4 linked regions of the Homo sapiens genome follow. The protein of the gene in region 1 purifies or fractionates together with the protein of each later gene. This does not show direct contact. Each region holds a gene or a part of one and is shown in the gene's direction. Other genes may lie near its edges.

Region 1 (6,616 bases):
CACATTATCATCTACATAAATAGGAAAATGAGTTCCTTAAACATCTTGGCAACTAGTCTTTTCCGACTTTATTTGAGTAAATGGGTTTTTTGTTTTCTTCAAGGTCTGGTCAATTCTACCCACTCAACAATTCCTTCAGCTAGGGCTGGGCCTAAAGGCAGAGTGGCCAGGTGGTCACCCATGTCATGTAATCTGGAGGAACCCATGAGACTCCATGACCCTGTGTCCACCTGTAAGTCCACCTCTGAAAGGGGCAGCACCTTACAGGCACTTATGTCTTAGTGAGGTCGGGCGCTACAGCACCAGCCTTGTCTGATGGTAGCTGAGGACAACAAGGGAGGCGGAGCACCCAGGGAGGGACAAGAGTCGGGGGCATCACTACCCCTGGCTTGTGAGGTACAGGAAGTGAGGGGGCTTATCAGAGCCTGAAAGATTGTGGCTCTGATCAAGGACACAGCCTCCATCAGAACCACATCCAGGCAGGTCAGGACTCCTCAGGCTGGGTCACTGTCATTTGCCAACCCCAGCTAAAAACCAGTCAGCCTCTCAGGTGCAGAGAGTGGGTTGGGGGGCAGCGGCGCAGATGGAAAATAACTGGCTCAGGTTTCACCCCAGTGCTGAATCCTGTCCATCAGCAGTGGTTTCCTGGAGGGCCGGGTTGAGGTTTCTGAGGCTGATTCCTGGCAGAGTGGGAAAGAACATCTTAAGTTGACAAGGAATGTCTGCAGCAGGGATGGGAGGCACCTAAGAGATTAGGAAGGATGTGTGCAGAGTGGGTTGGTTGTAGAACAGAGAGGCTGAGAACCCTCGCAACAGTCACCATCATCACTACAGGACAAGTCCCAGGGACACTGGGTGCCTAACAGGAAGCCTCCTGTGTTTCCCCACCTCCACTTAGGGAAAATACAGATGTCAGTTGATGTAGACATGCTGAATCTCCACATGAGCTGAGTCAGAGCACACATCTCAGGCCTGAAGCCCAAGTGGGATCATCCTGACCCTTGGCCCTTAAACCACCATGCTGCAGTGGGCCTTTCGGGGGGCTGGTTCTGCTCCTGCAGGCATACCTCACACTAGGAGGGTGGACAGGCCCACCTCCCCAGCTGGACTTCCCCCATGGAAACAGGACACAGAGGGGAGCCCCGCTGGCTCCAGATAACAGCTCTGACCCACCAAGGGAGAACGGGAGAAGAGAGGGCAGAGGGCTCCTCCATGGGCTGACGTGGGAATGTGAGGGGAGAGGTGGCTCCCCGGTGACATCCCATTGGGGCCCCGCTGCAGGGCTCTGAGGAGTGGGTGACCTGGGGCTGGAGCAGGAGAAGGCATCCAGATAGCCACCCACACTCCCTCCCTCCCACAGTGCTCACGAAGGCCCACCTGGGGTTGCTTGGGGTTGGGAGGGACGGCCTCCAGCTGGGGAGACTCTCTGGATGTCTGCAAAGGGAGCAGAGAACTCATACAAATCATGATATTGAGGTGTCTGCACTCGCATGGGGTGAGGCTGGCAGGGAAGACTTTCTAGAAGATTCTAATTTAAAAAAAGTGTGTGTATATATAGTATATATAGGTATATGGTATATATATGCTGTATATGGTGTATATATGGTATATATATGAATATGGTATATGTATATATATGTATATGGTATATATATATACACACACCATATATACCATATATACGTATATATGGTGTGTGTATATATATACCATATATACATATATATATATACCATATACATATATATACACACACACATATATATATATGAAGAATAACAGCCATGGAGGGTAATGGGGCACTTGGGCTGAGAAGCAGACAGGTCTAAGAGAAGCATTGTGACCAGTAACACTCACCTGGTGCTTTCCACCATCCTTGCCACCTGTCATACCCCAGGGAAAGAGGACAGGATCCCAGGGAGGGGCACTCCCTGGCATTTCCTCAGGGCCCTGATTCCACACAGTTAAGGAAGGCAGGCTTTCTGCTTTAAGAATAAGTGCCAGGAGCAGGGAGCACCACATTACAGGACCTGCAGGGCCTCTCATGTGGTTCTGTCTGCAATGGAGGGAAGGTCAGGGCGATTCTCACCTGTTGTATGTCCTGTATCTCAGATGTGGATGAATGTGTGGGCCTGCAGCCGGTGTGCCCCCAGGGGACCACATGCATCAACACCGGTGGAAGCTTCCAGTGTGTCAGCCCTGAGTGCCCCGAGGGCAGCGGCAATGTGAGCTACGTGAAGACGTCTCCATTGTGAGTATCTCCAGGGGAGGCACACCCTCACCCAGGCCTCCAAGTGTGGCTGGGCTGGATGCTTCCTAGAGGTTCTTGGGAGAAGGTACAGTTATACCATAGAAAGATGAGAGGCAGGAGGCTGGGAGGCTGGTGTCTCTGAATTTCCATTTCCGCTTAGTGGTTGCATTTAATGCGTTGCTGCTCTGGAGAAATAAGAACCCCATTCCCCATGGGAGTAATATACTAAGTGCACCCCCACTACATAGAGGTTGATGGGGTTGCTGCCACCCCAGGATGGCAAAGCCAGGGCAGGCACTGAAGGGAAGAAGCTGTTGGTGACATTACCCTGATAAACCCATAGCAGCCCAGGAGACAGGTATAGATCACATGGATTTGGGAGGTGACAGCATTCACATAGCCAGGAACTATAGACTCCCTTGAGTTACACTGCATATCCCGTGCACCCTGCATTATATCACTCTGCTTTTCCAATAGTACTAGAAGGTTCTACATCTAGTAACTGCAACTCTTAAACAGCAAGTAGAGCTTTTTTTTTTTTTTTTAAAGTTGGGAGATGGGCCTTTAAGGGGAATGACTACAACTATCACAAAGCACATACATTTTCCTCTCAAAAAGAGATCACAAGAGCCCTAGCGTTGTCTTTAAAATGAAGTAACAGCCATGGAGGGTAACTTAATTATTTGAATTGCTGTTGAGTTAAAGCAGATTAGAAGCAGCAAGAAACTTAGTGGCACTGAAGCATGGCAGTTTTTAGAGAGAGTGAAGACATCAGAACCTTCCTCATGAAGTCACTCGGTGAAGGGATAGGGAACGGGTCTATGACGGCCTCTGGGGCATTCGACCAACAGCTGGATGTGACAGTTGACTGCATAATCATGATGCTACAGAATCGCCAAATATACTAGATTGCATTTGTCTTTTAACAACATAGAGAAATATCGAAAGCATTTCCACAAGACCCTCTTTCCAAATGATTAAGGAAAACAGGGCTTCCTGCGTTGAGAATACACGTGATGGCCAGGCACAGTGGCTTATGCTTATAATTCGAGCACTCTGGGAGGCCGAGGAGGGCGGATCCCTTGAGATCAGGAGTTCGAGACCAGCCTGGCCAGCATGGTGAAACCCCGTCTCTACTAAAAATACAAAAATTAGCTGGGCGTGGTGGTGGGCACCTGTAATCCCAGCTACCCAGGAGGCTGAGACAGGAGAATCACTTGAGCCTGGGAGGTGGAGGTTGCAGAGAGCCTAGATCATGCCATTGCACTCCAGCCTGGGCGACAGAGTGAGACTCTGTCTAAAAATAAATAAATAAAATACATGCTGCTGTGTTTAGGAAGTTCACCGTACACCGTGTGGGAAGCACTGCATTACAGGATGTTGCTGGCTAACTGCTGAGGTCCTGCCATTACTGGGCGAGGTCGCAGCACATGGAGAAAGGGCACCTGGTTTGAATATCAGCATTGCCATTGTTATTTAATATTCCCAGGCTATATTTTTCTGTAAAAATGATAGTAATAGCATAAATAAATGTATGTGCACACACATACACACGTACACAGGTGGGCAGGGAGCACCCTTGAGCAGGAACAGAAGCAGCAGCCCTTCCTTTGCCATGCCTGACACCAGCTACATTCACTCGTCCACAGCTCCATAGCTCCTGGGTGAAGGACCCGTGGCTGGGAAAGGTCATCTAGGTGGCCTCTGCAAGAGGGCAGGTGGGCAGCCGGGTCAGAGCAGCTCTTCATGAGACTCCCCAAGGCTGACTGCCTCCATTTTGCCTCTCCGCTCCAGCCAGTGTGAGCGGAACCCCTGCCCCATGGACAGCAGGCCCTGCCGCCATCTGCCCAAGACCATCTCCTTCCATTACCTCTCTCTGCCTTCCAACCTGAAGACGCCCATCACGCTCTTCCGCATGGCCACAGCCTCTGCCCCCGGCCGAGCTGGGCCCAACAGCCTGCGGTTTGGGATCGTGGGTGGGAACAGCCGCGGCCACTTTGTGATGCAGCGTTCAGACCGGCAGACTGGGGATCTGATCCTTGTGCAGAACCTGGAGGGGCCTCAGACGCTGGAGGTGGACGTCGACATGTCGGAATACCTGGACCGCTCCTTCCAGGCCAACCACGTGTCCAAGGTCACCATCTTTGTATCCCCCTATGACTTCTGAGGGTACACAGGGGCACTGGGGTGTGGAGAGCTGACCTCATTTCTCTTCCCCGAAGGCTCAGCTTCGGGCACCGACTGCGTGGAGCCTCCCGCCTGTTCCCGCCCTCTCACCAGTGCACCCAGGCTTCTAGGGCAGCGTTGCACGGCGCCCCATGGAATAGCACGGAAGAGCAGCCACAAAACTCAACTGCTGCCATCACTCTTTTTTTTTTTCTGCTTTGAGGCCCTTCCCTTAGATTATGCACTAACTTTCTTAAAACTTTTTCATCCAGGGGATGGGTGGCTTTCCAAAATGCTGTGCAAATGGCCTTGTGAGTTTGAACTAGCTGGGGAGAGAAAAGGTGGCAATGTGTGTCAGGTGACTATCAGCCCTTCTGCCTTTTTGTAGCCAGGCTTGCTATGAATGAAACGGTTCTAGTCGTGCGGGGGGCCCTAGTCATGCCTCTGCGCATGTGGCATAGGAAGTGGAGTCTCCTCCCATGACCCAGCACGTTGTTCTTATCTGCCTTTTCCTCTGTGACATGCCTGCCTGCCTGCCTTCTCATCAGAGAGTCACAGGAGGGCCTTAAACCCCACGCAGATCCTTCTAGACCAAGGACCCATTGTTAAAAGCATGGATTCTGCCTGAGTTACTTCCCTTTTGAGAAATCATATCTCAAATACATAACCTGGTAATATAACTGAAAAAATAAAAGTGATTGCTCCTTCCTGCCCGCCTGACTTCTACCTGAGCATGAGACAGCCCACTTCCTTCTAGGAGGGGGTGGCTGACTCTCTTCCTGTCTGGGTTGGATACACTGGAATAAATGAGTCAGAGAACACAGAGGTGATGTTTGGGACTGTTCCACATTATAAATTTGTTTTGACCACATGGGAGATTGGTAAGGACAATACCTGGCCGTGGAGAGTTTAGGAAAATGCTTGAGTTGTCATAGATTCCATGGCCTTTTGTTTCTGATGAATTCACTACAGGGTGACGCCCTCCAGGTGATCAAAGAGAGAAAACACTGGCCAGAGCTGAGTGGGGTGTGGTAGGATGGGGTATGGGGTAGGGTGGGGAAGATCATTCAAGCTAAAACTTAAGAGGTAGCGAAGCTGTAAGAAAGTTTCATTATCTAATTACATGTCAAGCTGCTGGTGAGATTTCCTCACACATATTTTATTTAAATCTTTGTATTTGCCCTGGTATGAGATGGAGCCAGAAGTGTGTCACTAGTTCAATGATCAAGCCCTACATCAAGATGGTTTCTAAGATGGTTTATTCTTGTACTGTTGTTTGGACAAAGGTTGAGACACAGTCAAGAGTTGCTTTTGAAATGTTTCTTCTCCCATGGGCTCAGCTGCGATCTCTAACAACAGAAAAAGGACATGCAAACTAAAGTTACAAGACTTCATTAAAACATTATCCACAGCCTTATGTTTCTAAATGTAGCTATGCTGGGCCAGAAGCCTGCACACCACCCAGTCCCATGTGCACAACACCAGGCGGAAGAGTCTAAGGGCCTGGCCAGGTTCCTGAATGGGAGATGTCACAGCTGTGGGCTAGGGACAGCCCACACATCACACACATCATATGTGAGATATGATGACATATGATGTGGGATATATGTGGGATATATTGAGATATGATGTGTTCAGGGGGACAAGCCTCTCACATGCCAGAAGGTGGGGAGTGTTTGGGGAGTCTCCAGAGCAGGTGCCCTCTAAACTGGTATATGATAGGGCTTTGATGCCAAACAGCCCAGTTTAAAGCAACAATTTCCATCACCAAGATCTGCCGTCATCAAACCTGCTTCCCACTGATGAAATCACGCACCCAGCCCCGGTGCCCACAGCACCAAAGTACAAATGGCTGACTGCTTAGGATGTGGATGATGGCTGTGGACAATGATGGCTGGGCACTTCTTGTGGATGATGTGGATGATGGGTCTTTTGTGGATAATGGCTGGGCACTTCTCCCTGTGGAGTGTCTTGTTCTCTATATGCTCTCTCCTCACTCTCCTCTATGGAATCAACTTTTCTTTTGTCCTTTCAGAGCTCCACTCTGTACTAAGAGTAACTACTGGTTAACCAGAATTCATTTGCACCCCTTTCCAGGTAATATAGTTTCATATTATTTGAGGGAGGGGCTTTAAGACTTTTTATCATGCAAAGTTGCAAACATATGCAAAAGTAGAAAGAATAGTATAATGAACCCCA
Region 2 (8,282 bases), on another chromosome or scaffold:
CCACAGTTTTGATTTCCATGGTTTCAGTTATCCATGGTCAACTGCAGTCTGAAAATAGGTGAGTACAGTCAGATACGATATTTTGAGGCTGGGTGCAGTGGCTCACGCCTGTAGTCCCAGTTTTTTGGAAGTGAGGATTGTTTGAGGCCAGGAGTTTGAGACCAGCCTGGGCAATATAGTAAGACCCCCTCTCTAAAAAAACAAAGATATTTTGAGGCACTAAATTTACATAATTTCTTTTTTTCCTGTCTCTTACCAAAAAGACAAATTCACATAACTTCTATAACATATATTGTTATACTTGTTCTGCTTTATTATTAGTTATTGTTGTTAATCTCTTCCCATGCCTAATTTATAAATTAAACTTTTTCGGCTAGGCACAGTGGCTCATGCCTTTAATCCCAGTGCTTTGGGAAGCTGAGGCGAGAGAATTGCTTGACCCCAGAAGTTCAAGATCAGCCTGGGCAACATGGTGAGACCTCGTCTCTACAAAAAATAAAAAAAAATTTGCTGGGCATGATGGTGCGTGCCTGTAGTCCCCACTACTTGGGAGGCCAAGGTGAAGGATTGCTTGACCCTGGGAGGTCAAGGGTGCAGTGAACCGTGATCATACCACTGCATTTCAGCCTGGGTGACAGAGTAAGACCCTGTCTCAAAAATAAAAATTTTTAAAAATTTAATGAATTAAGAATTCTCATAGATGTGTATGTATAGGAAAACAGTAGTCACGCATTGCTTAATGACAGGGATATAGTCTGAGAATTGCATCGTTAGGTGATTTCATCATTGTGCAAACATCATAGGGTGTACTTAAGCAAACCTAGATGGTATAGCCAACTACACACCTAGGCTATATGGTGTAGCCTATTGCTCCTAGGCTACAAACCTGTACAGCATGTTACTCTACTGAATACTATAGACAATTGTAATAGAATGGTAAGTATGTATATAAACATAGAAAAAGTACAGTACAAATACAGTATAAAAGGGCACATGAATGAAGTTCACAGGACAGGAAGTTGCTCTGGGTGAGTCAGTGAGTGGTGAGTGAATGTCAAGGTCTAGGACATTACACTATTGTAAACTTTATAAATACTGTACACTTAGGCTATACTAAATTTATTTAAATTTTTTTTTCTTTCTCCAGTAATAAATTTTTTTTTTTTTTTTGAGATAGAGTCTTGCTCTGTTGCCCAGGCTGGAGTGCAGTGGCATGATCTTGGTTTACTGCAACCTCTGCTTCCCCAGTTCAAGTGATTCTCCTGCCTCAGCCTCCTGAGTAGCTGGGATTACAGGCGCCCACCACCATGCCTGGCTGATTTTTTTTTTCTTTAAAGACAGAGTCTCACTCTGTTGCCCAGGCTGGAGTACAGTGGTGCAATATCGGCTCGCTGCAACCTCTGCCTCCCGGGTTCTAGCAATTCTCCTTCCTCAGCCTCCCGAGTAGCTGGGATTACAGGTGCACGCTGCCATGCCCAGCTAATTTTTTGTATTTTAGTAGAGATGGGGTTTCACTGTGTTGCCCGGGCTGGTCTTGAACTCCTGAGCTCAGGCAATCCACCCGCCTCGGCCTCCCAAAGTGCTAGGATTACAGGCGTGAGCCACCGTGCCTGGCCTAATTTTTGTATTTTTAGTAGAGATGGATGGGTTTTCACCATGTTGGCCAGGCTGGTCTCAAACTCCTGATCTCAGGTGATCTCCACCCACCTTGGCCTCCCAAAGTGCTGGGATTAGAGGCGTGAGCCACCATGCCTGGCCTCCAATAATAAATTAACGTTAGCTTACTGTAACTTTTTTACTTTATGAACTTTAAAATTTTAAAAAACTTTTTGACTCATTTGTAATAATGCTTAGCTTAAAACACATTGTACAGCTATACAGAAATATTTTATTTATATCCTTATTCTCTAAGTTTTTTTCTGTTTTTAGTTTTTTATTTTGTTTTCACCTTTTAGACTTTTTTGTTAAAAACTAAGCTACAAACACACATTAGCCTAGGCCTAGGGTCAGTATCATCAATATCACTGTCTTCCACTTCCCCATGTTATCCTGCTAGAAGGTCTTTGGGGGCAGTAACACTCACAGAACTGTTGTTATCTCAGATGATTGATAACAATGCCTTCTGGAATTCCTTGAAGGACCTGCCTGAAGCTGTTTCATTTTTTTTTTTTTTTTAGACAGAGTTTTGCTTATGTTGCCCAGGCTGGAGTGCAGTGGCACCATCTCGGCTCACTGCAACCTCCGCCTCCCAGGTTCAATTCTCCTGTGATTTTCCTGTCTTAGCCTCCTGAGCAGCTGGGATTATAGGCACCCACCACTACGCCCAGCTAATTTTTGTTTTTGTTTTTATTTTTTTTGGAGACAGAGTCTTGCTCTGTTGCCCAGGCTGGAGTGCAGTGGTGTGATCTCCGCTCACTACAAACTCCACCTCCCGGATTCACGCCATTCTCCTGCCTCAGCCTCCCGAGTAGCTGGGATTACAGGCGCCCGCCACCACACCCAGCTAATTTTTTTGTATTTTTAGTAGAGATGGGGTTTCACCGTGTTAGGCAGGATGGTCTAACACTGACCTCGTGATCCGCCCACCTCGCCCTCCCAAAGTGCTGGGATTACAGGTGTGAGCCACCACGCCCAGCCGACTTTTTTTATATAAGAGGAAGGAGTTATCTAATGATAATAATATAGTAAATACATAAACGCGTAAATGGTTGTTTATTAAATATCACGTACTATACATAATTGTATGTGTTATACTTTTATGACTGGCAGCACAGTAGGTGTGTTTACACCAGTATCACCACAAACAAGTAAGTAATGCATTGCATTATAAAATTACAACAGCTGTGATATCTTTAGGCTGTGGTGATTTTTCACCTCTATTATAATTTTATAGGACCACCATCTCTACAGTTCAGTGTTGACCAACATGTTGTTATATGGCACATGACTGTATATAGAGTTTATTTAGTACTATCCATGGTTTCAGACATCCACTGAGGGTCTTGGAACGTATTCTCCTCACATAAGGGGGGACTACTTTACTCATTTATTCAACAAATATTTATTGAATACCACGGATGTACCAAGCATTGTGCCAAGCTCTGAACATGGACTGTTTCATATAATCCTTACAACTCCTGTTTGAGATTATCTTATTTATTTGCATGTATATTTGGTACTTTGTTCATTCAGAAAATGTTTATTGCTCATTGTACTAGTGTGGGGGATTCTGCAGTAGACAAAACAAAGTCCCAGGCCTCATGGATTTACAATCTAGGGGAGAGATATGAGGGATAAATTCAAGTTCCTACTAGAATGTAAGTTCTCTGAAGGCTGGATTTTGTCTTGTTTACAAACTCATAGGAGCCTGGAACCTAGTAGGTGCTTAGCGAATGTTTGTGGTATAAATAAATGACTGAAAAATTCCACAGATACCTAACATTACTGTATTAGACCATTTTCACTGCTGATAAAGACGTACTCAAGACTGGGTAATTTATAAAGAAAAAGAGGTTTAATGGACTCACAGTTCCACATGGCTGGGGAGGCCTCACAATCGTGGCGGAAGGCGAAAGGCACATCTTACATGGTGCAGGCAAGAGAGAATGAGAGCCAAGTGAAAGGGGAAACCTCTTATAAAACCATCAGATCTTGTGAGACTTATTCACTACCATGAGAACAGTATGGGGGAAACGGCCCCCATGATTCAATTATCTCCCACCAGGTCCCTTCCACAACACGTGAGAAATATGGGAGCTACAATTCAAGGTGAGATTTAGGTGGGGACACAGCCAAACCACATCAATTATTTTCTGCTTTTTTCTTTTTGAGATGGAGTTTCACTCTTGTTGCCCAGGCTGGAGTGCAATGGTGCGATCTCAGCTCACAGCAACCTCCGCCTCCTGGGTTCAAGCAATTCTCCTTCCTCAGCCTCCCAAGTAGCTGAGATTACAGGCATGCACCACCACACCTGGCTAATTTTGTATTTTTAGTAGAGACAGGGTTTCTCCGTGTTGGTCAGGCTGGTCTCGAACTCCCAATCTCAGGTGATCCGCCCACCTCGGCCTCCCAAAGTGCTGGGATTATAGATGTGAGCCACCACGCCTGGCCTCCCCATTTTATAGATCATAAGGCTGAGGCTTAAAAGGGAAAAACCCACCCCAGGTCACGGTTAGCAAGTGGTAGAGCTGGAGCTGGAATTTGAGCTGGAAGTTTGACTCCAGAATCCATGCTCTTGTCTAGCCTCCTTGCCTCATTGCATCCTGGTGCTCTTTCCAAAGTGTAAGTTCTCGCTTCCGCTGTCCAGGCCTGCCTTTTTTCTCCCTAATCACTCATATGTCCATTATCCCATCTCCCCCACTGCAGAGTATAACAAAGCCATCCGGAACTACACCCGCTTCGATGACTGGTACCTGTGGGTTCAGATGTACAAGGGGACTGTGTCCATGCCAGTCTTCCAGTCCTTGGAGGCCTACTGGCCTGGTCTTCAGGTAGGAATGATCAAAGAATGTGATCATCTTTCTATGAGTCTGGCAAAGCAAGCTCATTCTGATGTATAAGTCAAATAATGTACTTTGTTAATTGCTTGAGTACTTTTTTTGGAGGGACAGGTTGAGGATGGAAGAGAGACCTAGAGTGAATTAGATAGATTTAGAGTTCTGCCAAATTGAGTGTCAGGAACTGAGCTTCCAGTTTGCCATGGAGTGTTACAGTACTTAAAGTCGACAGTGCATTTCCAGTCTGGGCAGGAATGGCCATTGGCAACAGGTGTTTCTCCACTGGGCGTTTCTGTCCAATCTCATTCTTGACAGTGGGCCTCAGGAAGGGCAGGAAGCAGCTTGTGCCGCTGTGCCATCTCGTTGTTTTTCCATTACATGGTCTGGTAGAGTTGCAGCTGGAAGGATCTTAGAGCTTATCTAATCTACCCCACTTTGGTGTTCCAAAATAGTGCATGTACCAAAATGTTTTTATAATCTACGTTTTTAAAAGTTTTAAGAAAAAGTAGTCCCACCTGGGCAACATAGTGAGACCTCATCTCTACAAAAAATAAAAAATTAGGTCGGGCGCGGTGGCTCAGGCCTATAATCCCAGCGCTTTGGCAGGCCGAGGCAGGCGGATCACAAGGTTAGGAGATTGAGACCATCCTGGCTAACACGGTGAAACCCCATCTCTACTAAAAATACAAAAAATTAGCTGGGCGTGGTGGTGGGCGCCTGTAGTCCCAGCTACTCGGGAGGCTGAGGCAGGAGAATGGCATGAACCTGGGAGGCGGAGCTTGCAGTGAGCTGAGATTGCGCCACTGCACTCCAGCCTGGATGACAGAGCAAGACTCCGTCTCAAAAAAATAAAAATAAATAAATAAAAATAAAAATAAAAAATTAGCCTAGGGTGGTGGCACATGCCTGTAGTCCCAGCTACTCAGGAGACTGCAGTGGAAGGATTGCTTGAACCCAGAAGATCAAGGCTGCAGTGAGCCATGATCATGCCATTGCAGCCTGGGTGACAGAGTGAGACCCTGTCTCAAAAAAAAAAAAAAAAAGTGGCCACCGGGTTTCTATCCAGAATAACCAGGTAGACATTGTGTCATTTACCAAGAAGGGAAAAAGGCCAAAGTAGGGAGGCAATTTCGTGGGAAAGTAAGGGAACCAAGAATTTTGTTTAGGAAGTGCCAAGTTTGTTCTGTCCATGAGACATCCAATGAAGATGTCAGGGTCAGCTGCTTCCCTGTGAGATTACATTAATAGTAATGGCTACTTAGCAATAGTGGTAAAATTATAAATGCATATATCCTTTGACCCAGTGATCCTAATTCTGAAAATGTATCTTACACATAACATTTTACATCTATTTGATGTGACATATATACAGAATTATTTATTGCCACATTAGTTGTTGGAACCAATTCAAATAAAAATATCTGAAAGCCAAATTTCCATATCTAAAAATATGGAGATAATTAATATCCCTATTAATAAAGAACCAAAGGCTATTTTTTAGTGTGGGGAAAATAACATATACTCATGCATAAAGAAACTCTGAAAGGTTATACAAGAAACCAGTAATGTTTATCTGAGGCCAGGCAAGATGGGTGATGGTTGTAATCCCAGCACTTTGGAAGGCTGAGGTAGGAGGATCACTTGAGCCCAGGAGATTAAGACCAGCCTGGGCAACAAAGTGAGACCCCCATCTCTACAGAAAATAAAAAAATTAGCACTGGGAGGCTGAGGTGAGAGGATCTCTTGAGCCCAGGAGGTCAAGGCTGTAATGAACCGTGATTGTGCCACTGCACTCCAGCCTAGGTGACAGAGCGAGACCCTGTCTCAAAAACAAAAACAAAAATGGTTATCTTTTGGGGGTGTGGTGTGGGAGTGAGCCTTAGCACAAACTTTTCTCTATTCTTAGAATTTTTAACTGGCTGGCCGAATTCCAAAACTGTTAGCTGACATTGACTCTGAAGATTTAGGGACTTAATATACAATCTTTGTTCCTTCCAACAATGCATGAGATAGGTGGTGTATTTTACGTTTTATAGATGGGGCTCAGAGAAGTCCAGTGCCTGGCTCAGCACCACACTGAGTAACTGGCAGACTCAGGGATTGATTCAAGGCCTTTTTGGCCCCACAGATTTTACTTTGTCTTTTCTTAAGGTTGTCTGTGGGGTTTTATGCCTGGTGTCTACCTGCCTGACAGCCACTTTCTCCCACAGAGCCTCATTGGAGACATTGACAATGCCATGAGGACCTTCCTCAACTACTACACTGTATGGAAGCAGTTTGGGGGGCTCCCGGAATTCTACAACATTCCTCAGGGATACACAGTGGAGAAGCGAGAGGGCTACCCACTTCGGCCAGGTGAGCAGCATTTCTGGCTTGTCATCTGCCCACAGGCTCTGGTTGCTGAAACCCCAAATCCCCTCTACAAGGCTCCATCCTCCACAACTGCCCACAAGTTCATTTCTTTCCATCTGTTCCTTTCAGTGGCTCTGGGTGGTTTTCTTACTAGGAGTTAATTATCCCCATGTTTTCAGATATGGAAACTGAGGCCTAGTGGGATGAAATGGCTCGCCTCTGGCTCTTAAGTGCAGGAGCTAGGCCTGGAACCCAGGGCTCCTAACTAAATTGCATGCTCTTTTTTATTTTTATTTTTTTGAGATGGAGTTTCGCTATTGTTGCCCAGACTGAAGTGCAATGGTGTGATCTCGGCTCACCGCAACCTCCGCCTCCTGGGTTCAAGCGATTCTCCTGCCTCAGCCTCCCGAGTAGCTGGGATTACAGGCATGAGCCACCATGCCCAGCTAATTTTGTATTTTTAGTAGAGATGGAGTTTCTCCATGTTGGTCAGGCTGGTCTTGAACTCCCAGCCTCAGGTGATCCGCCCACCTTGGCCTCCCAAAGTGCTGGGATTACAGATGTGAGCCACTGCGACTGGCCCCATATGCTCTTTCAAATCAGGAAATGAGTGAGAAGGAAAAGGCCAAGGTTGACTCCTTTTGAGCTCCTGCCATCAGGATTTCAGAAGTGTAGGCAAGCTTCCTAAGTCCATGGGTCAGATAAATTATGCTTACGTGTATGGAATGTTAGAACTTTGGGGCGGACCTTAGGAATTACCTAGTCTCTTCCACCTCCCCATTTGCAGCTCAGAATCAAGCAAAGGACTATATTTGAGACACTCTCATAGGTTCCTTTCTAGCCCTAATGTCATTTGATTCACTTCAGGGAAGCTGAAAATTGTGAGGAGGGAAAGAAAAAGAGGGACAAAGGAAGGAAGCTTAGTCAGCACACATAGTCATCCCCCACCCCAAAACAGGCTATGAGCCCATTGTCTTAGACACTTCCCACTTTCCCACCTGAATTGCCTTTTAGCCATGGGACAGGCCTTCTGGTTATCCTGCCTTCCTCTACCCCATTTCCTTCCTCTTCTAACTCAAGTGATTATCGTAGGAGGTGTAGAGGGGACCAGGAGAGGGAATAAAGAGCAAATTCATCAACTTTTGACTCCTTAGAGGCCACTGTTATTGATGTTTCTCATGCATTTGTTCTCATGGCATGTTTTTAAAACAGGAAACTTGGTTGGGCATGGTGGCTCACGCCTGTAATCCCAGCACTTTGGGAGGCCAAGGCAGGTGGATCACCTGAAGTCAGGAGTTTGAGACCAGCCTGGCCAACATGGTGAAACCCCATCTCTACTAAAAATACAAAATTAGCTGGGCATGGTGGCGTGCACCTGTAATCTCAGCTACTGGGGAGGCTGAGACAGTAGAATCGCTTGAACCCGGGAGGTAG
Region 3 (8,282 bases), on another chromosome or scaffold:
CTTGTAATTGCCAAGCCTATCACTGCTTTAGCACCCCTGCACCTGGTATATCTTTTGCTGAGATGTGTTTCCCACCCCGCCCAATCACATCTTTCAGACTGAGCATAACCTCCCTGCCCCCATCATGGTGCATTCACAACTGGATTCAGGTCCTGTATCTGCCATTGATTAGCCATGTGGCTTTAGCACAGTTTTTCAAGTTCTTCATCTTTCAAAGTAGGATACCAGTACCTGCTTCACAGGGAGGATATAACAGCTGCAGAGGGCTTGGCCATGCCTAGAGTCTCATGACCCCTTAGGAAATTTTTCATGATGAGACTCAAAGATAGTGTTCAATGTTAGACTGGTTTCGCTACAGAAAACAGGAATACTTCCACTGAACAACCGCATACGAAAGCTAAATCCTGCTAGTGTAAAAATCATCAGATTTCACTGGATAGAATGAAAGAAGAATAAGGAAAGAGGAATATGATAAAAATAAAAAGAGAAGTAAAATTTGTAGCAGAAATTCAAATTGGTGATTTGCTGAATAGCAGAAAATCTAAAATGAGGAAAAACAGTATTGCAAGCTATGAGGAGAAGATAGAAAACAAATAGCATCAACATAAATAGGCCTGCCTGATTCTCTAACACCTGAGAGCATTGCCTTGCCACGCTAAAGGGAGAGTAACTAAGGAAGGCTTCTTGCAGTCTGGGCTGGGGTTGTGGGGTAGGGGGATTCAGTAGCAGTACAAATGACAATGTTGTTATTACTGTAATAATGGTGATAATGACACCTAAATACTTAGGGCCAGGCATTTTTCTAAGTGTTTTAATCTTCATAACAATGTTACAAATAGATATTATTCCCATTTTATGGGAGGGAAATCTGTGGCACAGGGTAGTTAAGTAATTTGCCCACAGTCACCCAGCTGGTATGGAAGAGCCTGAATCTACAGCCATGCATCCGGACCCCATACTCGTCCTAATCCCTGAGCTGCACTGCAAAGCCAAGTCCTGCCCATTCACTTTCTTTAGAGTATTATACACAGGAGATACTCTGCTGGAAGCCAGGTCAAGTTACATTGGGATGCAATACCCAGTCTTAACCATGTTGCAGTGGAATCATGCAACATGTCCAACCTCTACACAAAAGAAGCAGAGCAGTTCAATATATCATAGAAGTTAATCACAGAAGAGAAAGTGGGCATCTTTGCATAACTTGAAGCCTAATAGGAACATTTGAATGCATAGTATGATTCAGGTAAACCTGTGACCTAGCATATAATTTATTTTTATTTATTTTTAATTTAATTTAATTTATTTATTTATTTATTTTGAGACAGAGTCTCACTGTGTCACCCAGGCTGGAGTGCAGTGGCACCATCTTGGCTAACTGCAACTTCTGCCCCCCAGGTTCAAGCGATTCTCCTGCCTCAGCCTCCCAAGTAGCTGGGACTACAGGCACGTGCCACCATGCATGACTAATTTTTGTATTTTTAGTAGAGATGGGGTTTTACCATGTTGGCCAGGCTGGTCTTGAACTCCTGACCTCAAGTGATCTGCCTGCCTCAGCCTCCCAAAGTGCTGGGATTATAGGCGTGAGCTGCCATGCCTGGCCCTAGCATATAATTTAGATAGGTGGCTAGTCACTCTTTGCTATAGAATATTTGAATAGTCATTTAAAGTTGTTACCTGGAATTCTATGTCAATTCCCAGGAAAAGGCCATAGAGTAGCCTTTTCTTTGACCTGAGGATAATTGAAGAGGCAAATATATTAGTAATAATTATGAATTCATTTATTCATTCATCAAATATTTATTGAGTGCTTCCTTTAGCTAGACATGGCCCTAGGTGACTGGGAATATATAATGGATAAAATATATAAGCTTCCTGTCCTGATGTGTAACATCCTAATGAGAGGAAACCTGTCCCCCACCACATATACTTAGGCAGATTAGCACTTGGCCAGAGGAAGAAAATAGCTGTGGAGTGGACAATGGTGTCTTCAGCGGCCGAAAGGAGGGGCAGGGGAAGCCCCAGCAGCAGGAGCAGGTGTGTGGCAGCCCTTCACAAGGGGCTTTCATGTCTCAGTTGTATGTTGCCAGTGTCACTTTGTTCATTGTCATAGTTGAGGGAGAAGACTTGCAACAAGAAGATGGACCCACAGGAGAACCACAACAAGAGGATGATGAGTTTCTTATGGCGACTGATGTAGATGATAGATTTGAGACCCTGGAACCTGAAGTATCTCATGAAGGTAGAACACTTTTTTTTCAAGTTTTAGGATAAAATATAATCAATGACTTCTAATTACTGAAGTTTTTCTTAAACCCCTTTAAAACTGATATTTAACTTTTGCTTAGATTTTTAAAAGTTGAAGCTTAAAGCTTCAATTAAAGCAAATTTTTTCTTAAAATAGATACCTTGATTTTGGTTCAAAGCACTTTTCAGGGAAACTCAGAATATACAAATTTCTTATAAATAGTGAGTCAAATACTTGAGGAAACTAGTTTTACTATATTCTTCTGCTTAGGGTGCTATTTGTTAAATAAAATTCAAACAACTGATGAAATATTGGACTTGATAATCTATCACAGGCTCATGTTCACACATGAACTCTGTAATTACAGTGAGCAAAACACAATTCTTAGCTTCTGTACCAGGCATTGGCAAACTTTTTTTTGTAAATAGCCAGAGAGTAAATATTTCAGGTTTTCTGGATCGTACAGACTCTGTTCAGCTACTCAACTCTGCCATCACAGCGTAAAAGCAGCCTTTGATAGTTCCTAAGTGGGTCAGTGTAGCTGTGTTTTTATACAACTTATTTGTAAAATCCTACCCAACATGGCTGGTAAGTGCAGCGGCTTGAACACAGCTCACTCCAGCCTTGACCTCCCATGCTCAAGCAGTCCTCTCACCTCAGCCTCTCAAGTAGCTGGAACCACAGGCATATGCTACCATGCCCTGCCAATTTTTAAATTTTTTATAGTGGCAAGGTCTCCTTATGTTGCCCAAGCTGGTCTCAAACTCCTGGCCTCAAGCAATTCTCCTGCCTCAGCTTTCCAAAGTGTTGGGATTGCAGGCATGAGCCATTGTGTGTCCAGTTAGCAAACACTTTTTAAAAGCATAAAAATGAAAAGTAGTTTATCTACTTTGCACAATACTAAATATTTTGGAAAATTACTTTAGCAGCAGGTAGCTCCTACTTTATGAGTACATGTATTTCCAAAAACTTATATCCATGCCTATTGTTTAGAACAGGAAATGCACTTTCCCATAAAAATATGGGATGGTTTGGTTTTCAAAAGAATTGTATATAATGCATAATTTTCTGTGAAAAATACAAGCACACAATCCTTTTGAACATCTATATGATTTATTTTTGCTGCATTACACATTGAAAATAAGCACTTATAGACTACCTTCAGAACTTTATGCCTTTAGTAATCATTTATGTCATGATTTCTTTGGGACAAGGTTTCCAGTTTCTGAGTAGGGATACTGATAAAATGATTTCCACATTTCCTGTTGCTTCTTCTCTCCAGTCTTTGGCCTAAATGGCTCAGTAAGATTGACAGTTGCTCAGAATTTTTCTATCTACATGCTGCTTATACAACAAATTTCAGTTAAGATGCTGAAATAAACAGAAGCATGAGGAATTTGATATTCTTAAAGTTAGGAGTCACAGATTGGGAGTAGGAAGAAACACTTTTAAGAAGTTCACAAATTGCAGAAACCTTACTTTCTGATCTCATCTTTAATTAGGACATAGATGCAGTTTGAACTTAAAAGTTGGTTGTTAAAAGTCTTCAGAAAATAAAAATATTTATTCTTTATATATGCATTAAATAAAATTAGCAAGGTCATAAGTGTGGTGACGGACAGATAGCTCTTCTGCTATCTGGGGTGTATGGGTTAAGTGTTCAACACATTTACCCTTCAGCTCCCTAAGGGTATAAAGCCTCTTCAGCTGTTTTTCTCTGTTCCCATCCATAGTTGCTGTACTTTCGCTCTAGAAAATGGTAGGACAGGTCGAGGAGATAGCACATTCTAGTGGGTTGTGAAGTGGATTAGAAATGAACGGCTTTCCTGGTCTGGCCTGTGTCACTCTAAGTTGTCCTCTCTCTTTAGTCCAGGGGGTGGTGGTTGTCAGCCTTGTGGGGATGAGTGGACTGAGAAGGAGAATGTGTGAGACATCCCACAGTGTACTTCTAGTGAAATATAAAAGTGTTAAGCAGACTTTTAATTGATAGTCCCATTTTTTAATTTTTTAAATAAAATTAATGATAAGCATAGATTCAGAGTACATATACGGGATATATACATACCATTTTGTAAAAGCAGTAAATATCAATCTAATTTTTTTTTTTCCAGAAACCGAGCATAGTTACCACGTGGAAGAGACAGGTGAGATTTTAATTTAATTCTGTTCTTAATTAGAGTGAGTCTTCCTTTAAAAGGGCATCATAAAATACATAATATCTATTATTAATGATATATTTAAATTAATATATGCAAGATATGCAATTAATAATTTTATTACGTCTTATATTTATGGTATTTCTTTGTGAATATACTTTTTTGTGTTTTGATGCCTAGTTCCTGAGGATAAATTTTCAGTAGGATTACTAGTTCAAAAGATACAATTGAATTGCATGTTTTGTACCTTTCAATTACAGAGTCAACGAAAGGTCTAAATCATGTTTTGTCACATGCCAGCGCCCTTAAAGGGCATGGCCACAGGAGGTGGGCGCATCATCTGTCAGCACTTTACTGTTTTGCGGTTTGAGTGTAAACCAGTTGATGACAGGCCCCCCTTACTCATCTTTGCATTTGGCATTTAACACACTTAATACCTATTTGTTTCAGGAGTGAACATGTTTGAATATCATTATGACTTGATTTTGCATTTCAATCATAACTAGAAATTGTGTCTTTCTGGTTTCGAATATTACATGTATTCCTTATTTGAGACGTAATTTCCTAATTATTCCATAATTTATAGTTTCACAAGACTGTAATCAGGATATGGAAGAGATGATGTCTGAGCAGGAAAATCCAGGTTTGTAAATGTTAAAATTATTGATATGTGTTTTCTGATTGAGGCAGTGGCCAAGGCCGTTTTATTCCAGGGTTAACAATTGTGATTCAACACAGAGATCCCTGTATGGTATTTATAATCACTTTTGATTGGTCAGATGTTTATAGAAATGTCTGAATATAGTTTAATACTACATAGAGGGATGAGAGAAAAAGGAGACGTATTTTTCAAACCACTGTTGAGACTTTGGTCTTTGTAGGTAAGGTGCTGGAAAGAATATTTGAAAATTGAAGGGGCAGTATGATGTACTATAAAGTCATTCTGGGTACAAATCCCATTTCTACTCTTTCCTATCTTTTTGACTTAGGCATCAAATTGTGGAACGTTATTCAGCTTAAATTTTATTAAATGATAATGAAAACATCTATCTGGCAAAGTTGTGAAGATAATTAATTTATGAATCTCCTAGAATGCTGTCTGGCAATGTGTTTGGTTTTTTCCTGTTTGGCAAAGGTGTGTTTTTGTTTTTTAGATTCCAGTGAACCAGTAGTAGAAGATGAAAGATTGCACCATGATACAGGTATTAGATGAGCATTTTCATTAGATTTAAAATATTACCTTAGATTTTTCAATCACATGCTGTGTTTACATGGTGATTTTTCTTTTAAAGGCATCAAAGAAGTAATTTCGACATCTAATGCATGAGATTTTGTTTTATAACAAAGTTAGACTGTTATAAGAATATCAGGCTTTCATATTTCACCTCATCAACTAACCATTCCATAACAAAACAGGATGTCAAATTTTAATGCTGTTTTTGTGTATCAAATTCCTCTGTGCCAATTTGAGAAATTTTAATGAAAATAATTTACCTGCCTTTTAATTGCTTTTGGGCAGAGGCATTTATTATTGACTGAGCAGACATTAATATTTGAAGGAGTAGAGTTCTGTGTTTACGATTAAGTAGTATTTTGTTTTAACTGAACAATTGTATAGAATGACTCAGTTAATACTTATTTTGCTTTTATTCTCTTTTTTTTTTCAGATGATGTAACATACCAAGTCTATGAGGAACAAGGTTTGCAAATGCTTTCTTTTTTTTTTTTTTCTTTTTTTTTTTGAGATGGAGTTTCGCTCTTGTTGCCCAGGCTGCAGTGCAGTGGCACAATCTTGGCCCACTACAACCTCCGCCTCCTGGGTACAAGCGATTCTCTTGCCTCAGCCTCCTGAGTAGCTGGGATTACAGGCATGTGCCACCACGCTTAGCTAATTTTGTATTTTTAGTATTTTAGGGTTTATCTCAAACTCCCGATCTCAGGTGATCCTCCCGCCTTGGCCTCCCAAAGTGCTAGGACTACAGGCATGAGCCACTGCGCCCGGCCTGCAAATGCTTTCTAACCTTAAGCCACCTTCTTGTTTTAAAATATACCTATAGTTTGACTACAAGATGTGGAACATTATGCTTTAAACTATAAACTTTGCAACTTAAAACATCCAGATGAACGGTAGCGTTCAAAGAATTCACTTGGGGAGACTGTTTACCCATTCCACGGCTTCTGCCATTGCCTAAATAATTTCTTAAACTCTTTACAAGTTGCCTTAGGAGGCAGTTACAGTCATTCAAGAAAACCAATCTCAGTACTTTATAGTTGTGTCTCTTTTGACTAAAATATGCATGAACAACTACTTTAGCCGGAGTTAAATTGCTCTAGCTGCTTCTACAGGTTAATCCCACTCTCAAAGATGACTGATTTGTCACCTTGGGGAAGGTTAAGAAGCACTGTGTTCCAGGCTTAAAGGCAGTATGGAGAAAACAGTTCTGGCAAATTTGTGGCATCAGCAGCATCTGATTCAGTTTAGGCCTGTACCTCCCTCCTCTTGTGTCCAAGCATTGCATAGACTATTGTGTTGAACTCCATGAAGTAGATTTTATTTTCCCTGCTTCCCAGAGGACAGAAATAAGGTTCTGACATTATAAATAAGCTGCCCAAGAATGTATGGCTAAGAAGTAATAGAACCAATAATATATCCTTTTTATTCCATTATCCTCAAAGATGATTATGTAGAAAGAGAGAAGTCAGTTGGGTATAACTTTATGTGTAAAGCAAGAACGATGAAGAAATACATCGTAATTGAGTTGGTGGATATGGAGGACTTTCTATGTTCTAGATGGTTTTAGGGCCTGGAATTCAATTATGAGTAACATAGGGTCCCTCCTTTCAAGGAGTTTACAGTGTCATGATAGATAGTGAATCACAATTGAAGAAAATTAGGAGTGTTTATAAATATGAATCATATTTATATGATGATTTAAGATTTGAGACCCTACCAAGTTCATCATCTATAGTGGCTATTTCTAATGGGATATGAATGACACCATGGGAAAAATCCTAGGTTGTGTCTTTAAGGTACTGATAATTTTTATGAAAAGTTAAAGAATTTGGACCTGATGTGTTCACAGGAAGATTTGGGGCCGAGGGAAGGTTGGGGAATAATTTGGTCTTGAGATTGCACTTAGATTTTCTTTCCAATCTTGAATTTGAAGGAGAAAATAGGAATTTATAAATACAAGTTGCATGTAATGATGGGATTTGAGATATTTTCCTCATTTCTACTGATCATTATAATGTTTTTAAAAATATAAAGAACATGTTTGGAATGCAATTTGAAGACTAAATCTAGAGGAATTTAAATTCAAACTCATAAGAAGTATAAAATTAGATACCATGCGAAAAGAATGTTATATGTTTTCATAGGGCAGAGTATCATAATAAATGTAATTTAAAATGTTAGCAAAAGGCAGTAAATATAACCTAAGAGATTGACATGATTTGGTAAGCTACTTTGGATTTCTTTGTTATATAGAACATAAACTGTTTCAAACAAATAGATCTAATTGAACAGTGTATTATTCACTATATGCTAAAACAATACCTTTGTGAAAATTCAGGAATCAGAGCAGAGAAACCAAGTAACTGACATGTAAGTGAAGCTGTAAGTAGGGTGAAAACAAAACCACATTTCAATGGGAGAATAGAATATATTCTGTATGAAACTTGCAAACCCCAGAACATACACTTCGATAGAACTATAGTAGGAACCAGCTTCTACATCAAAGATAACCTAGAAATCATCATGCCTACATTGGACAAACCTGGGAAGTGACAGTATGGCCTTACCATGTAATTGACTTATTTATTCATACACTGTTTAGTGTCTTCGGTCTGAAACACAGGACACTGGAGCAGTTCTAGTGAAG
Region 4 (8,282 bases), on another chromosome or scaffold:
GTCTTGGTCCTTTTATGAATACCCAGTGACGTTTAATACCTGTCCTTGGACAGGGTGATAGAGGTTGTTATCGCCACCAGCTGGCAGGGAGAATTATTTGTTGATAGGTGGGTCTGTCTCAAGGCAGAAAGATGAATCACACGATATGGAAGTCACCTCCTGCAACCACTTTTGTTTTTTCAACCACTTGTGAGGAAATGCTGTCTCTGGAGAAGCGGGTGTTAGCTGCACAGTGGGGCCAGGCCCCGCTCCACGCCTGGGTTTTCTCACCCTTAGTGGTGGGGTTGGAACAGCACTGATGTGCCTTGAGCTTGCCCCACCTCACGAGCTCTCCTTTATCCTCTGTGCCTTTGTCCTTCACAGGTCTTCCCCAGGGAGGTCCTGAACTACACAGCTGAGAACATCTGTAAGTGGGCCTTAGAAAACCAGGAGACGCTCTTTCGGTGGCTGCGGCCACACGGAGGCAAGAGTCTCCTGCTGAATAACGAGCTGAAGAAAGGACCAGCGCTGTTTCTGTTCATACCTTTTAATCCCCTGGCCGAAAGTCATCCTTTAATAGACGAGGTAAGAGCTGTGATGTGAAAAGCACCTCATGAGGAGTAGGAAAGCCTCATCTACCTGGCTCCTCTCATCCCACACTCAGTCATTTACTCTGGCAGCTAATGGCTGCCACGAGGGGCAGCTGTGGCTCTGAGCATTGCTCTTTGCCCCTCCATATGGGCAGGAGAGAGCCCGTGTCTAGGACAGGGACTGCCGCAGCCTCTCTGGCCATATTTATTGACAGCTGTTGGTGTCTGGAGTGAGTGGGAAGAGGCAGGGAAGCCACACCGTGCCCTTCTAGAGAAGGACCAAATGCCCTCTTCTGATGTGGCTGCTGTTGAGCTTCCTGTTTAGGGGGTGAAACAGGGAGTGGCAGGAACACAGGCCGAGTTTAGTGTGGCCTAGGAGATGCCATTGTCTTGGGGGTTTGGCCAGACTGCCAGCCCTGGCCATCCTCAGGACAGCAGAGGAGAGCGAGCAGCAGCAGCGATGTTGGGACACCTTGTTTCTCTGAACCTTCCCTGTCGTGCAGAAGCCAGAGTGGTTTTCAGAGGCAGCGCCATCGGAGCCTGCTGTTCCTGCCTGTCTTCGGCTTCATCTGGTGCGCCTGCTCTGGGCGTGAGTTTATTTTCCACACGGAGCATTTGGAGGCGCTCAGAGACAGCAGGCACATTTTGCAGAGCGAGCCTGGAGAGACAGCAGGCACAGTATGCAGAGCGAGCCTGGGGTGGCAAAATTGCATTTACTGAGGTTTTTATTTTTTCACTCCCTCAAGGATCCCTTAATTGGCCAAAACCAATTTCAGACAGCCAGTGTACCACTGGCCAGCTAAGCAGACCTGAGCCCCTCAGCGCTGGCCTGGCCTCCTGCCTGGAGGGACAGGGAGGCAGGACTTCTCGCCCAGGTGGATCCCTCCCTTTGCTGTGCTGGAGTCTTTTTGCTCAAGTTATGATTCCCTCTGGGGAGTATTCTGAATGAATGCTGCTCTTTGGTTTAGAGGAAGAAAGAGGAGAGAAATGAAATAGCTTTGTTTCTTCCCCTCTAATTAGGGAGGACTCAAAGTAATAAAACTATTTCTTTAGAAAATTTTCACTACATGGATATTTTGTGAACTGAGGCACCATTTCAAATGACTAGGCCTTTACTGTATCTAATATTAAGAGCCTTAAAGCTCATTGTAGGAAAGGAAGGTTTTCGGTCAAGGTGGTGTGGCTGTGGTTGTGGATTTGGAGAGTTCTCTCCTGTCTGGTTTGGGTGTGTCAGGGTCCTGGCTGGGTTGTATTTTGTGGCAGGAGCCCACAGCCTCTGCCCAGAGGGTTGTGGTTGGATTTAGGCACCTGGTGGGAAGACTCTTTCTCGCCTGTTGTTTCTGAATGAGTGTCCCCTCCAGCAGTCTGCAAATCCTCCACCTACCAACAGGCCTCCTTTTTATCATGGTTTTGCCTGTGACTCCTTTCTTTGGGGCTCCCATTGTCTCTGTGAGGTGAGTGCGTTCCCTTAACTTCAGCATGTGGGTGAGATGACCGAACACGAGGTGGCATCTCACCGTATTATGAATTACTCAGACAAGCAAAGTGCCTGTCCAGCACATTTCCCTTTTTGTTTCAGGTCAGTTTGGCAAATGTTTACTGAGCACTGTGCTGGGAAGCTCCAGGGGAGAAAGGATAGATGCGACACCATCTTGTCCTGTGGTCTTAGAGGCTTGTCCAGTACAGGGAGTGAAAGCCTGCCTATAATTCAAAGTAGAGGACGATCAGGCCCAGGGTCAGGAGGAACCAGAGGAGGGAGGGTGCCATCTCAGAAAGCGGGGTTCCGGGCAGGGGAGGAGTTAGCAGAGGCTTTGGATGGGTGAAGTATTCGAGACGGACTTGTAGGGGCAGCCAGGATCTTGATGGGTTGAGAAAAACTTACGGGAAGGAGGACCCTGAGCAGAGACATGAGGGACGGGAGTTGCTGCAGGTTTAGGTGTTAGGAAGGAGGCCGGGTTTTGTGGTCTGCAGGAAGGGCTAACTGGGGAGAGATCTTGAAAAAGCCTTTGGAGGAGAGGGCCTTGTGGACTTCTCTGAGGATTTCAAGATTAACCATAGTCATCCAAGTCTTTGTCTTCTCTTTTTTTTTTTTTTGAGTTAGGGTCTTCCTTTGTTGCCCAGGTTGGAGTACAGTGGCATGATCTCGGCTCACTGCCTCCTGAGCTCGGGTGATCCTCCCACCTCAGCCTCCCAAGTAGCTGGGACTACAGGTGCACGCCTCTACGCCTGGCTAATTTTTGTATTTTTCTGTAGAGATGGGGTTTCGCCATGTTACCCAGGCAGGTTTCAAAAGCCCTGGGCTCAAGCGATCGGTCTTCCTTGGCCTCCTAAAGTGTTGGGATTACAGGCATGAGCCACTGCACCTGGCCCATACAAGTCTTACTGACAGTGAAGAGATGCAGCCAGGGCTGTGCGTTATCATTACGAACGTTTTTCTGGCAGGAGGGTTCCAGAAAACTGCGAAGTAGTAAGAACCTGAACTTGGGTGGTAGAGGTGGAGGGTGGAAAGTAGGGTCTATGATCGGGGAAACTGTGACACAGTGACTAGAGATGAAGAAGCCTTTGGGTAAGGTGGGAAGGATGAACGCTGTACTTACGCAAGATGAGCTGTAAATTCATTAGCTTGTTGACCACGAAAGAGTTAGGTGGCTTTACTTTTTCATTACCACCTTAGGCCTAATATTGGGCAGAACTTTGAGGATGCTTGCATTGTTGAGAAGAGAGAGGTCATCTTAGAGTGAGTGGAATAGAGTTGGGGGCATACCAAGCACCAACATTCTGGACAGTTGTGCTGTGGTGCATGTAGGATGCCAGTCAGGAGTGACCATATGGTGGCCGCACCAAGCCCATAGTGGGTAGCTGCTTCTACACACATGCATACCTGCATGTGTACCCACACACACATGCAAAAGTACAGATCCTGACACTGGCGTGAGGCCACTGACACCCTGGTGTCTCTAGAGAGTTCTAGAGAGGTTATAAGACATCACAGTGTGTATTACACAACTTGTTAATCAAAGGAAATGCTTACCTCAGCCAGCAAAGAGTCTTCGTGACTTGTTTCCTATTTTAAAGGTGTTTATTTGAGGCATTCACATCGTCTGAATCTGGTAAGCAAAGGCGTGGTTAGCATGTTCAGGCTCACAGATTTCCCTGATTAAAGAAAATAGAAGGAAACATCTACTGTGCGAACAGTTATTTGCCAAGATTTCCTTAATTATTCACATGAAATAAATGACATCAAGTGATACACAGAATGTGACATGAGTTGTGTTTTCAAAACTGCCTGTTAGGTAAAAGGAATAGAAACATAAATTCCCCTTCATAGGAGAAAAATGATAATGCCTAACTCTTTAAGAGCATTGCTGGCTGGGCGCAGTGGCTCACGCCTGTAATCCCAGCACTTTGGGAGGCTGAGGAGGGTGGATCACATCACCTGAGATCAGGAATTCAAGACCAGCCTGGCCAACATAGTGAAACCTCGTCTCTACTAAAAATATAAAAATTAGCCAGGCATGGTGGTGTGCGCCTGTAGTCTCAGCTACTTGGGAGGCTGAGGCAGGAGAAACGCTTGAACCTGGGAGGCAGAGGTTGCAGTGAGTCAAGATGGTGCCACTGCCCTCTAGCCTGTGCAACTGGAGCAAAACTCCGTCTCAAAAAAAAGCATTGCTGGTCGGGCGCGGTGGCTCATGCTTACAATCCCAGTGGGATTACAGCCCTGGGAGGCCGAGGCAGGTGGATCACCTGAGGTCAGGAGTTCGAGACCAGCCTGGCCAACATGGTGAAATCTCGTCTCTCCTAAAAATGCAAAAAATTAACCAGGCGAAATAAAAATAGAAAAAATTGGCTGGGTGTCGTGATGCATGCCTGTAATCCCAGCTACCTGGGAGGCTAAGGCAGGAGAATTGCTTGAACCTGGAAGTGGGAGGTTGCAGTGAGCTGAGATCATGCCATTGTACTCCGGCCTGGGCAACAAGAGTGAAACTCTGTCTCAAAAAAAAAAAAAAAAAAAAAAAAAAAAAGCATTGCTGTAGACAGAATACTTTCTTCAATTAAAAATATTCTTTACGTGGCTGCTTTGTTTATGAGATACTGAAGCTAAAAGAGATGAAGAAAGATTTTTCAAGGAATTTTCTTCTCTATAATATAATTAATGATCTCCTACTTGGACTTCTGTAAAAGATTACAGTAAATCGTGAAGTCTTATGGAGGTTTTTGCGGGAGTGGGTGGGAGTAGTTGTCTATTACTGCGTCTTTGAATCTAAAACAGTACCAGGATGGGGCCAGAGGGCATCTGGGCTCTTCACGGATTATATAGGCTTGACCTTGTTAGTACTGCATGCTGTCAGAGCCTCATCCAAAAACCACTGAGATGTTTTTGTGCAGGGGAAATAAAATTTCAAGCACTGGCCTATCATCTAAAGTGACTTCTTTTCTTGACCCAGTAGTTTTCTGGTGGGTTATAAAGTGACTTTTTTTATGCCGAGAACTATTGAAACAATTTATTTTTGTGTACAAATATGTATGTTTTGAATTAACTATAAATATTACGTTATAAAACTTTTTTATTTTTATTTTTATAAAACTTGTGTTTTTAAATTGGAAATTACACTCATTGAATTGTTTTACACATGCAGACACACAGACACACACACACACACAGCGAAACAAAATCCTGAGTGACAGCACCCTGTAACTAACTGTGGTGAGATTTGATTCAAGTTGACAGACTCTTCTGTTTTAGAGAGTAAATGCCTTTGGATTATAACTTACATGTCTTTCTCAGGAAACCAGAATGGGAGGTGGGTAACGAAATATTCTTTTTGGAAATGGAAGAATCTTAGAATAAAATATAAATTCAAATTGCCAATACTGGCTTGACGGTAAAGTGGCAAATCTCACCAAGACAGAGGATTGTGTGCATTACCCTGAGCTGCCACTCATTCATCAGGGGTTTACTGAGCATTTGTTATGTGCCTGGCCCTGTGCTAGGCCCCGGGGATGGCAGGATAAATCCAATGTGGCTTCTGCCTGTGAGGTTCTGTAAGTTTGTGGGGAAGAGGGATGTCTCAGCAGAAGCTTGTGAGACTGTAGAAGGGGTCTCAGGGACACTGGAGGTGCAAAAACTAGCTCTTCCTGGAGTGGGAGTAGGACTAGCTTCCCTGAAGCAGCTGCCCTGGTGCTGGGCCTTGGGAACAGATGGAGGAGCCGGTGTCCCCAGCCAGGACTCCGTAAAGGTGTGGCATTGCAGGAGGGCCTGGTCTGTTCTGAAGAGGGTAGGGTGAGACTGGAAAGCCAAACGGGCCAGATTGTGTGGAGGTTTTATCTCATGGGCAGCGTACCATTTGGCCCAGGAGTGCCATGCCTGGGGTTGTATTTTTAAAAATATAGTAACCATCTCCCCCTGCACTCTCATCTACCCTGCTGCGTATTCTTGGTGATACGTTCCAAGACCCCCAATGAATGCCTGAAACCACAGATGGTACTGAACCCTGTATATACTACACACGAATTTCACTTTTCTTCACAATTTCATGGGTAGAAGATTCGTTCTTACCGAAGATCTTAACATCCTTACCTCTTTTTTTTTCCTTATTGAGACTTTTGCCGTTTCACTTAAAGGAAGCATTTTTGGCTTCTCTTTGGCATATCTGAATTGCCAGCATCACTATCCTTACACTTTGGGGGCCCTTCTAATAAATAAAGGGTTACTTGAAGACAAGCACTGTGATACTGAGACAGTTGATCTGATAACTGCGTTGGCTACTAAGTAACAGGCTGGCAGCATCCACAGCATGGACACGCTGGACAAAGGGATGGCTCGCAGTTTTTGTAATGGCAAAAATTTCATCACACTACTCAGAGCGACATGTAGTTTAAAACTTACGACTTGTTTATTTCTGGAATTTTCCATTTAGTATTTTTGAACCGGAGTTGACCATGGATAACTGAAATTACAGAAAGTGAAACGTGGCTAACGGGGTGCTAGTCCCTCAGTCATCCCCAAGCCCTTCACCAACTCTGCCCTGTATTTCAGATCACCGAAGTGGCCTTGGAGTACAACAACTGTCATGGGGACCAGGTGGTGGAGCGTCTCCTTCAGCACCTGCGGCGGGTGGATGCTCCAGTGCTGGAGTCCCTGGCCCTGGAAGTGCCGGCACAGCTGCCAGACCCGCCAACGATCACAGCGTCCCCCTGCTGCAACACTGTGGTGCTGCCCCAGTGGCACTCCTTCTCCAGGACCCACAACGTCTGTGAACTCTGTGTCAACCAGACCTCCGGGGGCATGAAGCCGAGCTCGGTCAGCGTGCCACAGTGCAGCTTTTTTGAAATGGCAGCAGCTCTGGATTCTTTCTACCTCAAGGAGCAGACCTTTTATCATGTGGCATCAGACAGCATAGAATGCAGCAATTTTTTAACTTCCTATAGCCCCTTCAGCTACTACACTGCATGTTGCAGGACCATAAGCAGGGGTGTGTCAGGCTTCATCGACTCTGAACAAGGTGTCTTTGAAGCCCCTACTGTTGCATTTTCTTCCCTTGAGAAGAAATGTGAGGTTGATGCCCCAAGCTCCGTTCCTCACATTGAGGAGAACAGGTATCTCTTTCCAGAAGTGGACATGACTAGCACAAACTTCACAGGCCTGAGCTGCAGAACCAACAAGACTCTCAACATCTACCTTTTGGATTCAAATTTGTTTTGGTTATATGCAGAGAGACTGGGTGCTCCGAGCTCCACTCAGGTGAAAGAATTTGCGGCAATTGTTGACGTGAAAGAAGAATCTCATTACATCTTGGATCCAAAGCAAGCACTGATGAAGCTCACCCTAGGTACTGCAGGCAGTTTATTTCCCCAAGCATTGTACATTTTGCTTGACTTCATATGGGTAAATTTTATTGATGGCTCTCATTACATTTAGTTGTGGGGTGATGTCACCTTCGTAGCTCATTTTAAGTCTTTAGACCACCATCAGTCATAATTTTCAAAGAAGCTAATTTTGTCTATTAAATGGAACAGAAACTTCCTCACTCTGAATTTTGGATAAGTTTGTCATTTAGCCCATGGTGGGGGTAAGAGTCCCACTTTCTAAATTGGCGATTTCTGTCACATGTCTAAGGTAGAACCAGCTGCAGGCAGTGGGGACTTGGGGACTAGAACAGGCAGGGAGGTGGAGAGCTATTCTGGTGGGATGTCCTAGGGGCTGATGAAAGTGAGCCTTGACAGCAGCTTTGTTCTAAAGGAGCTTAAAGAGAAAGCAGTGGCCGGGCGCAGTGGCTCACGCCTGTAATCCCAGCACTTTGGGAGGCCGAGGCGGGTGGATCACGAGGTCAGGAGATCGAGACTATCCTGGCTAATGTGGTGAAACCCCGTCTCTACTAAAAATACAAAAAAAAAAAAAATTAGCCGGGCGCGTTGGCGGGCGCCTGTAGTCCCAGCTACTCGGGAGGCTGAGGCAGGAGAATGTCGTGAACCTGGGAGGCAGAGCTTGCAGTGAGCAGAGATCGCGCCCCTGCACTCCAGCCTGGGCGACAGAGCAAGACTCCGTCTCCAAAAAAAGAGAGCAGTGAAGAAGGAAGTAGAGCCGCCTTGCCTCCCTTTTTGTCTCATAGGCTTAAATGTCTAAGGATCAAGGCCACCAGACCTAATTTGTTCTGCTGCTGTTTCATAATGTACTGAGTAATATTGCTGGGACCTGGGGTACCTACACTGTAA

The links.
Region 2: the proteins of FBLN7 (region 1) and EDEM2 purify together in Homo sapiens (affinity purification with mass spectrometry; 4 studies listed by BioGRID and IntAct, with this or other methods). This does not show direct contact.
Region 3: the proteins of FBLN7 (region 1) and ASPH purify together in Homo sapiens (affinity purification with mass spectrometry; 3 studies listed by BioGRID and IntAct, with this or other methods). This does not show direct contact.
Region 4: the proteins of FBLN7 (region 1) and TXNDC11 purify together in Homo sapiens (affinity purification with mass spectrometry; 4 studies listed by BioGRID and IntAct, with this or other methods). This does not show direct contact.

The regions. Positions count from the first base shown.
Region 1 is NC_000002.12:112,183,089-112,189,704, forward strand, and holds the end of FBLN7 (fibulin-7 isoform 1 precursor), read left to right. Parts: intron 1-2,112; coding exon 2,113-2,251; intron 2,252-3,900; coding exon of another isoform or gene 3,901-3,919; exon of another isoform or gene 3,920-4,045; coding exon 4,046-4,418; 3' UTR 4,419-4,473; coding exon of another isoform or gene 4,474-4,548; 3' UTR 4,549-5,130; downstream 5,131-6,616. UniProt on the Homo sapiens protein: An adhesion molecule that interacts with extracellular matrix molecules in developing teeth and may play important roles in differentiation and maintenance of odontoblasts as well as in dentin formation.
Region 2 is NC_000020.11:35,122,459-35,130,740, reverse strand, and holds part of EDEM2 (ER degradation-enhancing alpha-mannosidase-like protein 2 isoform 1 precursor), read left to right. Parts: intron 1-4,365; coding exon 4,366-4,490; intron 4,491-6,706; coding exon 6,707-6,851; intron 6,852-8,282. Other genes in the region: MMP24-AS1-EDEM2 (ER degradation-enhancing alpha-mannosidase-like protein 2), read left to right, coding at 4,366-4,490, 6,707-6,851. UniProt on the Homo sapiens protein: Involved in the endoplasmic reticulum-associated degradation (ERAD) pathway that targets misfolded glycoproteins for degradation in an N-glycan-dependent manner.
Region 3 is NC_000008.11:61,640,707-61,648,988, reverse strand, and holds part of ASPH (aspartyl/asparaginyl beta-hydroxylase), read left to right. Parts: intron 1-2,110; coding exon 2,111-2,239; intron 2,240-4,356; coding exon 4,357-4,389; intron 4,390-4,987; coding exon 4,988-5,044; intron 5,045-5,555; coding exon 5,556-5,603; intron 5,604-6,068; coding exon 6,069-6,101; intron 6,102-8,282.
Region 4 is NC_000016.10:11,690,407-11,698,688, reverse strand, and holds part of TXNDC11 (thioredoxin domain-containing protein 11), read left to right. Parts: intron 1-363; coding exon 364-564; intron 565-6,606; coding exon 6,607-7,399; intron 7,400-8,282. UniProt on the Homo sapiens protein: May act as a redox regulator involved in DUOX proteins folding. The interaction with DUOX1 and DUOX2 suggest that it belongs to a multiprotein complex constituting the thyroid H(2)O(2) generating system.